Linked DNA regions of Homo sapiens: region 2 is linked to region 1. A link means that fine-mapping ties the variant in region 1 to the expression of a gene that starts in the linked region. Tissue or cell type: whole blood. Region 1 holds a variant in brackets; the other region holds the start of a gene. All regions are shown on one strand. Distances are from middle to middle.

Region 1 (8,887 bases):
AAATTAATCCATAAAGGAATTCATAATAACAGCATTATACAAACATCACAAGTTCAGTGACTCTATGTTCCGCATAATCATTGTGATATATCAGAGGACAATTTATGGAGGGGTAAAGGTCTCTGGGCTGAATGTTAAGAAGCCAGGTTTCTTTTCCAAGCCCAAATCACTTCACCGGTGTGCACCTTGTTAATCTTTTGAAAGTGAAAAAAAAACTGACCTAAGGGTATTGTGAATATTAAATGAAATATTTCATAATGGAAACACTTAGAAAGTAATAAATATGATTTACTTAATTATAAAGTAATAAATATGATTATTGTTTAGGCCAGTATTCTCTTTTGATTTGGAGAAAACTCCAAATCAAAACTCCACTACTTGGAGTTACAAAGTGAAGAAAATATTCCATTATAATCTGTGAATGATAGAAACATAGGTAAATCTATAGCAGACATCCCCTGTCAGATCAAACATTAGTCCTTACATTAGAAAATTAGAAAGTATAGCAAATCAACAGCATAAATCAAAACACGTACGGTGGGTTTATGTGCAGATTTGTTACACGGGGATTTTGCGTGAAGCTGAGGTTTGGAGTACGGATCTCGTCACTCAGGTAGTGAGCATATTACCTGATAGGTAGTTGTTTTACCCACCCCTTCACAACCTCTGATAGTCCATAGTGTCTATTGTTTCCATATTTATGTCCATGTAACCTCTATGTTTAGCTCCCACTTATAAATGAGAACTAAAAAATAAAAGGGATGATAAAAGACATTCATAACATATTGTGAAACACAAGCAAGGATGTCAGCAGATTACTCATCAAAAACAATGCAAGTGAGAACAAAGCAGAACAACATCTTTAACTCATGGAAAAAAAGAAAAAAAAATCTTATATTTTGGACTTCTATATCCAGAAAAAAACATCTTATAAAATGAGGACAAAATAAAATACTTGCTCAGATTTACAAAGCGTTGTTGAAACTTACAAAAACAAAAACGATTAATCATCCACAGACCCACAGTGTGAGAAAAGTTGAAGGAAGCTTCTCAGGTGGAAGGAAAATGACACCAGATGAATACAGATTTTCACAAAGAAATGTGGAGTGCAGGAAAAGAGAACAATGTAGACACATGTATAAGAAGGTTTTACAATCATTTAAATATCTTTAAAACTTAACGTACTTATTTTGTTTTTGTTTTTACAGCTTAACTTACTTTTCAAGCAAAAGTAATAACATTTATAAATCATACTTATAGTCTTAGAAAAACAAGACCTATAAATTAAAATGATAGACACAAAACTTAGTACTGTTGTTATTCATATTAAAAATCATTAAAGAGATACTTCACTTTGAAAATACATGCCAAAATGTCTTTAAATAATTTCGTTAAAAAAAGAAAAAGTGCGTGGTAATTTTAAAAAACTGATTTGTTAGCATTTTAAACTTAAGGAGATGATGAGATTTCTTTGAAGAGGTGTGTGTGAACTCCATTAGCTCCCAGAGGCATTGAACATCTTTTGAGAACAGAGGATTTTCTTGGTGGCGTTTTTCATATCTTTGTTCCTCAGACTATAGATTACTGGGTTGAAAAGTAGGGCAAGGGCCGGGCGCGGTGGCTCACGCCTGTAATCCCAGCACTTTGGGAGGCCGAGGCGGGCGGATCACGAGGTCAGGAGATCGAGACCATCCCGGCTAAAACGGTGAAACCCCGTCTCTACTAAAAATACAAAAAATTAGCCGGGCGTAGTGGCGCGCGCCTGTAGTCCCAGCTACTTGGGAGGCTGAGGCAGGAGAATGGCGTGAACCCGGGAGGCGGAGCTTGCAGTGAGCCGAGATCCCGCCACTGCACTCCAGCCTGGGCGACAGAGCGAGACTCCGTCTCAAAAAAAAAAAAAAAAAAAAAAAAAGGAAAAGTAGGGCAAGGACAGCAAACATCAGTGCAATGGCCTTGTCCAGTAATGGTGGGAATGTGACAGAGAAGCGCAGATACATGAGTGACACACTGCCAAAAAACAGCAAGAAAATAGCAATGTGGGCTGCACATGTGGAGAAAGCCTTCTGACGGCTCTCACCAGAGGGAATCCTCAGGATCACCGTGATGATTCTTAAATAGAAAAGGGTGATGACAGAGACAGAGGTCAGAATGGAAATAGCACGGATCACATCTTCAACCAGAATTATTTACGTATCTGTGCAGGCCAACTGCAGCACAGGTTCAAAGTCACAAAAGAGTTGATGAATTTGGTTGGCGCCACAGAATGGAAGAGTGGAAATGCACACAATCTCTGGCAGTAACATGAGGAAGCCAAAAATGCAAGAGCCAGTGGAGAGCTGGATGCACAGTCAAGGGGACATAGTGATTGCATAGCGAAGGGGGTTGCAGATGGCTACACACCTGTCAATGGCCATCACTGTGAGGACTAGGGCTTCTGTGACCCCGAGTGAGTGGAAGAAGTACATCTGCAGGAGGCAACCTATGAAAGAGATGGTTTTCTGTTCACTGAGAAGGTTGGAGAGCATCTTGGGGATAGTCACGGTGGTGTACCAAATCTCCAGGAAGGAGAAGACACTGATAAAACTGTACATAGGATTATGGAGATGGGGGTCCGGTTGGACAGCAAAGAAAATCATGAAATTTCCAACAAGAATGAATATATAAATAAAGAGCATAGGAATGAAGAATAAGAGGCTGCCATTCTTAGATTGAGGAAAATCAGAGAAATAAAACTCAGTCACCATTGTCTGATTCTCTGGATCCATATTTTCAGCGGTTTCACTTGTTGGCTCATAAAACACAGTCAACATTCTAAGTACATGCAAAGAACAAATAAAAACCTTCTTTTCAAGCAACTAAACAGCCTTGAAATTAGGCTGGTTAAATAAAATATACTATGTGAGTCATTTTGCAACATATAAAGTTATCCTGTCAAATTTAGTAATTATAATAACTTATGTTGTCAATTATTCTGTTGGATAAGCTAACAGTATTGCTAGTTAGACATATAAATTGGTACAAACTCCCCTGAATGGCAATTTGGCAATTTATATTGAGAGTTTAAGACTGTTTAGAGTTTAAGCCTTTCACTATGTAGTCTAGGGGAAATATTTCAGATATTAAAAAAGAAATATATGACAATATTAGCTAGAACATTTATTATAACAGTAAATTAGGAACAATTTAAGTAAGTAGACATTTTCATTTTTTTGAGATGAAGTGTTGGGGACACAGAAGAATGGGTCATGACAAAATGATACCCTCTGTGGATAAGAATAAACTCATTTTTAAGTGCGCATGTTTGAAACTAAAGTATGATTAGCAGCTTCCCTTAGTCTGACTCATTATTAACAATTGAATGAAAAGAAAAAATCCAAACATTCCACCAAATATTATTTACTTTAAGACACAAGAGGCTAATCTCATGTGACATATATGGGTATACAAATTAATCTAATCTACACTCTAAAGGGGGTGTATTAGGGTTCTCTAGAGGGACGGAACTAATAGGAGATATATATATAGTTAAAGGGAAGCTTATTAAATATTAACTCACACTATTACAAGGTCCCACAATAGGCTGTCTGCAAGCTGAGGAGCAAGCAAAGCCAGTTCGAGTCCCAAAACTGAAGAACTTGGAGTCTGATGTTTGAGGGCAGGAAGGGTCCAGCAAAGGAGAAAGATGTAGGCTAGGAGCCCAGGTTAGTCTAGTCTTCTCATGTTTTTCTGCCTACTTTATATTCTAGCCACGTTGGCAGCTGATTAGATGGTGCCCACCCAGATTAAGGGTGAGTCTGCCTTTCCCAGCACGCTGACTCAAAAGTTAATCTCCTTTGGCAACATCCTCACAGACACACCCAGGATCAATACTTTGCATCCTTCAATCCAATCAAGTTGACACTCAGTATTAACTATCACAGGGAGTTAGTTAATAGTTGAAGTGAGCTAATCTAGAAATTACATTCTAGGTGTAATTTGCAACATTTGAAATACTTTAATCAATAGTCTACCTCAAGAGGCAGTTTTGACAAGGGCTTCAAATATTCTTATCTGTATCCACACTGTAGAGTTTATTAAATAATGTAAAGCAGGTTTTGTCAATTTCAGCATTATTGACATTTTGAAACAGACAATTCATTGCTCAGAGAGAAGGCAAGGCTGTTCGTGCATTATAGAATGTCTAGCAGCCACCCCTGGTCTCACCTATAAGGTGTCAG[T/C]AGCATAGACCCCTCCCTCGTCATGACTACCAAAATCATCCTAGAAATCACCAAATGTCCCTGCAGGGAAGAAGTAGAAGAAAATTTGTGCCAGTTAAGAACCACTGGCATACAGAAATTTTTTTTAATGAAAAACCAGGTGATCAAGATACGTTGATTGGCTGAAAGTATTCCTAACCTCTGGCTTGCAGGGATATAAAACAGGATGAGCTAGGCAGCCTATAGAGCTTGGAGAGGTGCAATAGGCACATGATCCATTCATTCCTGTGTTCCCTCCTTAAAAGGGTATTTATCACCTAATCTCACTAGAAAGTTAGCTTTTCTACTGCAGAGAATTTTATTACATTTTATCTTTGATAGAAACCTTCATTTATTATACTAACCAGAAAGCATAAGGAAAAAGAGTTGAGACTTCCATGAGCTTCCAAGAAAAGGCCTAATAGTAGTATGTTTTTGCCTGTTTGCTAATAAACGTTTGTTTGCATGGCAGAATTCTGACTCTTCACTTGGTACTGAGGTGAAGATGGGACCTCTAAATGGAGAAAGCTACTGATATCTACCAAAAAAGTCAGACAACTCTGAACTGCCAATGGATACAATAAATAGATAAAATTATTTGGAAACCGTAATGCCGGAGGCTATACACAAGTAAGAACCCAGCTTGGCATATGGCAACCACAATTTTTTTTCTCTTGCTTTTTATACATACAGCAAAATAGTAAGTCTATGTTGAAACAGGAAAATATGAGGTGAAAATTCCCTTGTTTTTCTTTAAGAAAACTTTTACATAAGAAATGGAGGCTCATAAAAAATAATTTATACTCTAGCAATTTTTACCTTAATTACTCTTATCTGGGCTTATTGTTTCCAGACTTGTCTTACTACATCTCACTTTCACATAGCTACTGAAATAATCTTTCCTAAATGCAAAGCTGTCAATCCTCTGTCTGAAAACCTTATACTGGCTCTCTGTAGGGTTCCAAATCAAACCTGAGCCTTTAAGCAGAACAGATAATATGGCTGTATATGAGATTGTAAAATTATTTTGTCATCCCAATATCTTATGACTGTATTATCCCCAACAGGCTTTCCTAGTATGATAGAAAATGATACCCGTGTAATTGTTCTGTGTTCTGCTTACAGAGGCAGTAGGGAGACAAACAGGGAAAGAAGCATTAAGCTCTATGTCCAGTACCGTTTGGAATTAGAAAATTGAAATCTGGAAATTTTTGTTAAAAAGGTAGGTCTTTAGGAACTTGAGTCTTTAAGAAGGAAAGAGGATGCCTATAGGAAGGCAATTTGATATAGAGTCTTGGGAGCAAAGTTATACCTAATAGGACTCTCCTATTTTCTGTAGGAATGGATACCCCAGAATCTCAACCAGAAGCTCCACTAGTTGTCCTGACATTCCTTTATTCTTAAGAGCCTGTCCTGATGCCACTAAATACAATACAAACCTAGATTAGAATTTAGCTCAGAAAATAGTAGAGTTGTGAAAGAGTCATAGAGCTAGTGGGCCAGACACAATTTGACAGATTTAGTCCAGGTGTTTGTTATCTTACGGCAATCTCTAATTGTAGGACAAACACTCACCAAAGCCCTCCATCCCTAAGTTATGGTCCTTTCCTCTACCTCATGTGTTGTCACAATCTCAACAAAATTTCCACAAGTCCTTCTTTAAAGTCCAATAGGAAATAATATGGTTCTGTGAAAATTGTCCCCCAATATCTAGTAAACAAAGTCATTCACTCATATCTCAAAGTAGAAAGTCCACCCATCAGTCCATAGCTACCTCTTCCAGAAACCAACAGAGCCACCTCCTCTTTTCCAAATGTCTCCATCTTCATTGCTCTGCAGCCCAATAAGTAGGAAGGTTGTAACCACAGCCACACCTCTAAGCATCACAGGGAATTGCTAAGTGGGAGAAAGGCTTTCTTCTAAAGGGCTCTTTCCTGGGGGGCTTAGGGAAAAGCAACTCTATGCCCCATGAGACTAATTAGGAAAACACTTGCTGACACACTCCCCTTTCATGAGGTCAACACACCTATGGGAAGCTAGGTTTTTCAGTCAGGCTAGAAATCAGATGAAAAGAGTACTTGGCTTTCCATTCTGTCCAAGGGGTAAAAGAATAGTTTAAATTACAAAATCTGCTGAGAAAGGGAAAGGATAAGGAACAAAAGGAATGAAACTAACGCAATGTGGTTCAAAGGCAGGAGAATTTTCTCTACTCTTTGGAGCAGTTTAGTGATCACACAGCACAACCCTGAAGTGTATTGCAGAAGATTCAGCCAGCTGCCATCCAGCACAGCTTAGTAGAATTTCTTCAGAAGGATCCAGGGATCACAGGGCCATTTGCAGTAGTGGCAGTAATGAGGGGGCTCTCATGAGATTTCATGGGTTTCAGGGGTTCCAGCAGCAGATATCCCAAGTGTATGGAGTCAGGAAAGGATTGAAGGGCAACCTTTCCTGCTACATGAAAGCTGTATTGATGAGCACACATGAGCTAGACCTTGGACAGACCTGAGGAAAAAAAAAAAAAGGGCCCTCATATAGAGGACAGGAAATAGAAGCAGAAGGATACTTTTCTAATTCTTTTTTTCCTACTTTTTAAAAACTGAAATTGGACTTAATATTAACCTCCAGGTGGGTAAAGGCAGAAGAAATAGACATATACAACACATAAGATTTTTTTCTTCTATCACAAAAAGAGATATAAAACAATCACGAAGTGTTAAATGTTTAGTGGAACAGTAGCAGTGGATATAGAAATGCAACAGAATTTGAAAGCATATTTGAAATTAGAAAAAAAAAACTTATGAGACACAGGCATATATGGTGCGAAAAATGAGTCAGAGCAGAGGTGACTTTCGACTCTGAATGATTAGATTTTTAATAGGCGATTTTTAAGGCAGATCCTTGAGTGGAGGCAGGGGGACTGATTGAGGCCATGACTTCGAGGCTGCAGTGCACCGTGATCGCCCCTGTAAGCAGCCACTGCACTTCAACCGGAGCAATAGAGTGAGATTCTGTCTCTAAAAAATAAAAATAAAAAACAATAACAATAAATAAAGACAGTCCCTCAATAAGCATTCGATTAAGGAATATGTAGCTAAATAAACGAATAATTAAATGAATCGGCGAATAGCTAAAGAATCAGATAGTGACTCAAAGATAGTCTAATTTGTAGCCACACTGATGTTTACTTTTTGACCCTGATTTTATCCAGTCTTACCACTTAAGATAAATTCCTCCTCTTACGCTTTGAACCTATTTATCTCATCTCATGCAGAGACACTGTTCCTTCAGTTGTCTCACTTACCTATGTATCCTCCAAATTTTCCTCTTTTTAGTCTGCTTATATAGCTTATGAATATGCTCAAACATATTAAAGTATATACTCTTTCTCATTTTCATTGTTGCTCTAAGTCTGCCATACTGCCTTTCTTCTTCCCGATCTTATTTTCCTAAAAGCATAGTTTACTCTTTTATCAGTATTTCTGTCTCCACCTTTTCACTTCTTGTTCACATGAACCTACAACCCCACTTAAGAGATAGAATATTATGAATAACTTTGAAGACCACTACACTTTCCTCCCCAATCCAGTTCTTTATTGCCATATTACATATTACCATTCACCTGAATTTTGTGTTTATTATTCTATTTAGCACATGTGTGCACACTCAAAAACAATATACTGTTTAGTTCTGTTTTACTCTATGTAAATAGAATGGTATTTTAGGCATTACTTTATAATTTGCTTATTCACTCAACATATGTTTTGAGAATCATTCACATCAATGTATCTAGCTGCAACTTTAAAAGAAAATCCCTGCTGTCTTGTATAAATGGAGCACAATTTAATCATTCATTAGCCTTCAACGTTTTGTATTCTGGAATATTTGCATCTTCAACTTCACTAGATGCTGCCAAATTGTTTTTCAGAATCTGTCTACCACCAACAATAAATGCATTTTTATTGTTGCACATCTTTTCTAATGTTCTGGGTGGTCATATTTTTGCTACTCAGTTGTTGTGTAAACAATATGCTATTGCTTTGATTTGCAGTTGAATGTTGTATGTGTGTATGTGTGAGTGTGTGTGTGTGTGTGTGTGTACTCCTCATTTGGTTGTTTATCTTTTTCTTATTACTTTGTAGAAGCTTTTTGTATATTCTAAATAAAAATAATCAGTTATAAACGTTATTACAAATACAGACTCCTAGTGTATATCTTGTTGTTTTTCTTTTTAATGATGCTATTTGATGAAACGAACTATTAAATAGTTTTATTCATCAGTCTTTAAATTTATGGTTTATATTTATATGGAATTGAAAAATTTTAACTAAAGTTCCAATACAATTGATTAAACAATGCACCTTTTTCCACAGACCTGTTGTGCTGGCTATGTTCATCTTTTCCCCAGTGGTCTGCTATACCTACTCTCACGTATGTTAAAATCCCATACTATATTAGTCTATTTCTTTGCTTCCATTGGCTGTTTACTCCCACTGCTATTTTATTACAAATATTGCTTCATAATAACTTTTACTAAATAGACAAGTGGCACCATTTTAATCTCCTCCTTTGAAATGTCTTCTTCTTGGCCCTCATTCTTACATATCCCACTCCTCTCTACTCAAAATGAGATTTTGATTGAAATTGGGTTGAAA
Region 2 (6,237 bases), 26 kb after region 1:
TAAAATGTGGCACCTGATGTTAACAAACTAATATTGTAATACAGAGTATAGAGAAACAACTAACTATTATACAGCTCTTTCATGGAATACTCTATCAATGTAAAAACATGCTATTATTCTCATCTACTAAACAAACAAAAAAGCAAGAGCCTTAAATTCTTTCTCTTTACTCATCCCACAGCCACTGCTCTATTTCTTTCTATGTCCCTAAAAGAAAACTCTTCCAAGAGTCGGCTATACGCATTGCCTTTAATGCCTCTCTTTAAGTTTCTTCTTAAACCCACTCTAATTAGATTTATACTACCACCACTCCATTAAAACCTCCTTTCTCATAGACATTAATTATCTAAGATTTCCTGGATCCAATGGTCATTTCTCATTCCTCAGCTTACTTGGACTATCTGTTTCTTGACAGTATTGATTTATCCAGCCTGTTCACACACTTCCTTGACTTGATTCTCGGGGTACTATACTTTTGGTTACTTTCTATCTTATTAGTCATTCCTTCTCATTCTCCAACTTTAGTTTCTCCTCCATGCCCCATCCTTTTAATGTCACAGTGCCCATGGTCAGTGTTTAATCTTTTTTTTTTCTCTTCTATATAAACTCAACTCCTCTGCTCTATACCATCCAATACCAGAGCTTTAAACACTATAAATGTGTTGAAGACATCTAAATCCATATCTCAGGCGATATTTTTCTCTGCTACTCCAGACTCATATATTTCACTGCCTACTCACATCTCCTCTTGGGAGTCGAAGAGCCATCTCAAACTGAACTCCTGGGGTCTCTACCCCTAGTCTTCCCCATCACAAATGATGGCAATTGCAATCTTTCAACTGACAAGCTAAACTCCTGCAGTCATCCTTGTTTCTATCTTTCTCTCATATATCCAGGAACTGACTATGTTTGACCACCTCGGTCCAAGTCACTTTTATCTCTCCCCTCTTACTGTAATTGACTCCTAACAGATCTCCCTACTTGCATTTGTTCACTTGTAGCCTCATCTCAACACACCAGAGTGATCCTGTTAAATTCTAAATTAGGTTCTGCGTTTCCATCGATCAAATGTGTTCAGTGACATATCATTTAAAACCTTTGCTGTAGCTCTTTCCTTGTTCTAGAATCTCTTTCACCATTTGGATAGCTCTTTCATTTATTTCATCTTTGCTCAAATTTCACCAGCTCAACTACCTGGGCCACCCTATATAACTGCAGTGTGCCTCCATCCTTACATCCATATTCTGTACTGCTATTGCCTTTCTCTACTTAATTTTTAACTTTTTTTCCAGAGGACTTGTCATGTTCTAACCTGTAAAATGTACTTATTTCTTATTCCTATTGTTTATTGGTTCTCTCCTCTTTGATTATAAGTTCCTTAAGGGCAAAGATTTTTTTCTTTTCTATTTTGTTTACTGGTGTATGTCAAGTGCCTAGAGCCATGTCTGAAATATAGTTACAACTCAATAAATATTTATGTAATTAATATGCAAATCTATTAAGATAACTGCTAATTTGCATATGCAGTAGGAGTTACAAGCCATGGGCTGGATATGGAGATAAATCAGGAAAATTTCATAGAACACATAATTTATTATTATTATTATTATTGGAGACAGCATCTCACTCTATCACCCAGCCTGGAGTGCAGTGGCAGGATCTCTGCTCACTGTAGCCTTGACCTCCTGGGCTCAAGCAATCCTCCCACCTCCACCCCACAAGTAGCTGGGACTACAAACGTGCACCACCACGCCTGGCTAATTTTTGTGTTTTTGGTAGAGATGGGGTTTAGCCATATTGCCCAGGCTGGTCTTGAACTCCTGGGCTCAAGTGATCCACCTGCTTTGGCCTCTAAAAGTGCTGGGATTACAGGCATAAGTCACCATGCTTTGCCAGAAGATATAATTTTTATTTGAAGTGAAGAAACTGTCAGAATTTTTTAGATGGAAAAATGAAATAAAAAGTATTTGAAGCAAATGGAACTGCCTGTGCAAAGGCAGAGAGTTATGAAAGACACCGAGTCTTCTCCTTCTGCCCTCCGGTCTTCTTATCACTTCTTCCCTCTCCAGGATCCTGAAATTCATCCAAACTAACTTTGTTTACTCTGATTTTTCTTGGCATTTTTCTAAACCTAGGGAGCATGTCCATCCCATATACAAAAGCCTTTCTCAATCCAAGACTTAATATAGGATGTTTCTCTACTTAGATTCCAGAGAACTACTTCCGGGCCAAACTTTTATATGGGTGATTTTGCTTCAGAATAATTACTTTATTATCCAAAATTTCTTTGTCTTAGTTTTTCTCACCGCATATCCATGTCTATCCACTGCCCAATTCTGCCTTCTGTTTTCTTCAAGTCTTGAATGCATACCTGCCTTCTATAAAGGATTATCCCTAAATTTCTACTTCTTCTCAGACCCTTGTTTTCTAGATGTTCTATATTCCTTCCCTTCTAAATATAAATAAAAGGTTCTATTCTAGAGCTGCCTCTTTCCTTTTCTGGCCTCCAGTCCCACTCACAGATGAGTTGTCTAGACTGTGAGCCCTTAACTAAATTTTCAGATCTACATGGATGGCTGGTCAGAAGATTGAATATGAGAAGCCAGTATTTTGTCGTCTCCTTTCTCAGAAGGTAGAGTTTCCACATAACTCCAAAGACTTATTATCACACTATACATTGTATCATCACTCATTAATGACCTGCTGTTGTTCACTCCCTCCATACTCTGCCTAAGCAATCAAAGTCATCAGGATCCGATCAAGTATTATTATTTTCCACGGAAAACTAGCACCCCCAACTCCCTCATCTTCCAAGTTCACAGTTCTCAGAGGTTTGGACCATTTCCTTCTCTTTTTCACACCCCCTTTAAGATGGCAAAAAATACTGATGATTTTCCCTTTTTAAAAAATTTATTTTATTATTTCTAATTATGATTGTAACTGCTAGTACTGATAAACCTTAATTTAGTGTTGAGAGAAGCTTTAGGAACTATCACTTTCCAGTGGCCCCCATAATTTTGGATTTCACTGGATTGTTGGAATATCTGAAATGTATTATATATTTCCAACAGCTCATAAAAAGAAAAAACCTTTAAATATCACAAAAAGGAAGGCTAAAATAGAAGGATAAATCATGTGTATCAAACTTCATATTTGTACTTATGTTTCTAATTTTGATTCAGCCCAGCAAAAACTCATATCTTCTCACTCATAAAGGAATCCATATCGCCACAAATGGGCATCAACCCTCTGCCTGGATTTACAGCACTGGAAGCTTCCTGACCCATAAGACAGTTCTCTCCATTTTTGAAATGTTTTAGTTTACAACTGTCCTTTCCAATGACCAGAAACCTGGCTTTCACCATTATTCTTTGTTTTGCTCTGTGAAACAACCCTATTGCTCTGGTCCAGAGTCATGTGTTCAAACATTCTTTTCATCACCATTATAGCAATTTCAATGTTTGCCAAGTGGGTTTCTGTATTTAGCCCAGACTCCTTTGTTTGCAGTGTACCCTCACTAAAAATATGCTTTATCTTTTGTCAATCTGAAGACACTTGAATCATTTTCTAGCTCAAGTCTGTCATTTTTTTCCCTGACCATCTAAGTTAAATACTGTTCTTTCACACTTCTAAATTCTCAGTAGTACTTTCTCACTGTCCCTCCAATTATATCCTGTAATGCACTGCAATTATTTTCCAGGCATATGTCTTATCACTCCAAGGCAACTCTCTGTGAGCTTTTTGAAATTAATGAGGAAACTTCATACCATGTCCTACCTCCTAGAGTACTTAGCACAATGCCTGATATATCCGAGTTATGGTGGGTAATGAAAAAGAGGGCAATTGAGATGACTTGTGCAGCTCTTTAGCTCATCAGTTACTCATCTACTCCTATTCCTGATATTGGAATCAGGGCTCTCATAAAACCTACCACATATACAAATTTACATTTATCTTACTTAGGTCCATTGAAATCATAGTTTATTCCCCTAATTCTAGAAAGCTTTTAGAATATATGCCTTGCATTCTTTTCTTCAGATACCACAGCTGCATTATTCATAGTTCATAATTGTTTAGGCATAGGGCCAAAGATCTGGGGGTAAGAAGGGAGATGCAATTTTAGAGATTATCACACTCAACGTCTTCATTTAAAAAACGAAACAAACAAACAAACAACAAAAACTGGGATCCAGAAAGGGGAGAAGACTTGTTCCAGTTTACACAGTTAGTTAAAAATATAGCCAATTTACTAATTTTGAAGCCAGACTCTTCACTATAGCATTTGAAAAGCAGAATATCTGTTTTTAAAAATAGTTTCTGTGTTTCAATTATGTGTTTTATGGACCCTGATTATTCAAAAACCTCTCCATATTTCTGAATCCTCTAGGTCTCTTAGTGATCAGACTAAGAAGGAATGTGAAGATGAAAATGCCTGCTTGATAAAGTCTTACCTAGAGATTGTTGGTGGGGAGTGCTCTGCTAGAGCTTGACTCTGGAAGCCCAGCCACTGCTCGGAGTCCGAAGTTTGAAGAGAACTTCCTGTATACTTCCTATGTCTCATTTGCAGTATTATACCCAGCCATTCCCGGGGCCTGGAGGGGTTGAAGTTTATCACTTTGATGGAACCTGTGGGAATAAGTTAAACCATAAAACAAATTCTTCTCCCATAAAACCTGGATTCTTGATAGGGACCTCATAGAGGCAGAAGCCCATGGGCCTTCTGAGCAGACCTCCTGGGGTCACTAAAGTGCTCTCTCAGGAAGGGAACTGACATACAGCAAGTTCATTAGCCAGTAGTCCTTCATTACCTATTAGTTACTACAACAATAACTACCAGTCCAAGTTGAGATAGAACATGTCTCAAGGCAATTACTTCCTTTAGTAAATAACAATAACTGGTGTGAAAACTAGGTTCAAATGGGTTCCTGTACTGCATGACTTGGGAGTAAGCATACAACTTTCAATTATGATAGGATCTTTATAAAATTTGACTGACCTTCTTTGACCCTGAAAGGGTGAGGACAGGGAGACACTGGGGACATAAATATCATCAAGACCGACTCCTAATCTTGTCTGTTGCTCATATTTATAGCCGTTATATGTTGTCTTACACACTGCAGTCTCCTCTCTACTCTAGTGTTATCTGCTCCGTAAAGAGTGCTGCTTCAGAATCTTGGATACAATCCCAGCCATTCTTCCAAATACTTATGAGACATTAGGCACCTCACTGAGCCATGGTTGGCAATATTGCCAGAAGGGTGGATTTTGAATACTCTTGCCACAAAATAAAAATGATAAGTACTATATGTGAGGTGATAAATATGTTAATTAGCCTAATTTGATCATTCTACTCTGCATACATGTATCAAAACATCACATATATAATTATTTGTCAGATAAAAAATTTAAAAAGTATAAGGAAGATTTACTTTCCTCAGATAAAATTAATAATCAAATGTGATAATGTAAAAAAAAGTACTTACAAACTATAATATGAACTATGAGAAGAATTAAATAATTTTTGTCACTTTCTCCATCCCACCCACACTTTCAATATTCTTCATCAAAGTTTATATTTTTCTATCTCCTAATTTATTTCTGGAAGATTTTTTTTTTTCAAACTGAGTTGCCAGTATTTAATATTTTGTTTGTGGTAAATAGATATTTAACTAATAACTTAATTTTTGAGTCAAAGTATTATTTTGTTTTTTGACTAGTATACGTAGAGTTTAAGTAATAATTTTATTTACTTAATGACTAGAGGTTTATTCAGGTTTTCTAAATCCCTATAAGGCAATTAAGAGTTAAATACCCACTACCTTTTAAATTAAATTTTCCACATCTGTCAGTTTCATTTCAATTACTTCTTTTCTGTGAACTAGAATATCCTCTATTCCTAAAATATATCCATCAATTCTGCTACCCTCCCCTCCAAATGATATTCTGTCTCTATATGTGTTGGGGTAAATGTTTAACAACTGACTCCTCTAACAAAGATTCTCAATTTCATTGAACTCTAGTTCTCTTTTTGACTAAACCTCAGCCTTGGCTTACAAAATCTATAGACTGTCAGCAAAAATGATTTCATCCACCCTCCCCATCTTCCCTCCCCCACCACATGTATTAAAAGACTTAAACAAACACTAACATAGTTTCTAAGAACTCAAGGCCATAGTCTATCCTAGCACCTCTTTAAGTGCCTGCCTGAGAAAATTCAAGGCTACCAAAATAATTTAT

Evidence for each region. PIP is the estimated chance that this variant, and not a neighbour inherited with it, causes the effect.
Region 2: OR6N1 starts here. The variant in region 1 is fine-mapped to the expression of OR6N1 in whole blood (INTERVAL, PIP above 0.99).

The regions. Positions count from the first base shown.
Region 1 is chr1:158,740,651-158,749,537 of GRCh38, forward strand. It overlaps the pseudogene OR6K5P. Among named protein-coding and RNA genes, the nearest start is that of OR6K6, 9.6 kb to the right of the region's middle. The variant T/C (reference allele first, on the strand shown) is at 4,218.
Region 2 is chr1:158,767,570-158,773,806 of GRCh38, forward strand. OR6N1 (olfactory receptor family 6 subfamily N member 1) reads right to left here and starts at 4,626. Exons shown (of 2, transcript NM_001005185.2): 1 at 4,452-4,626.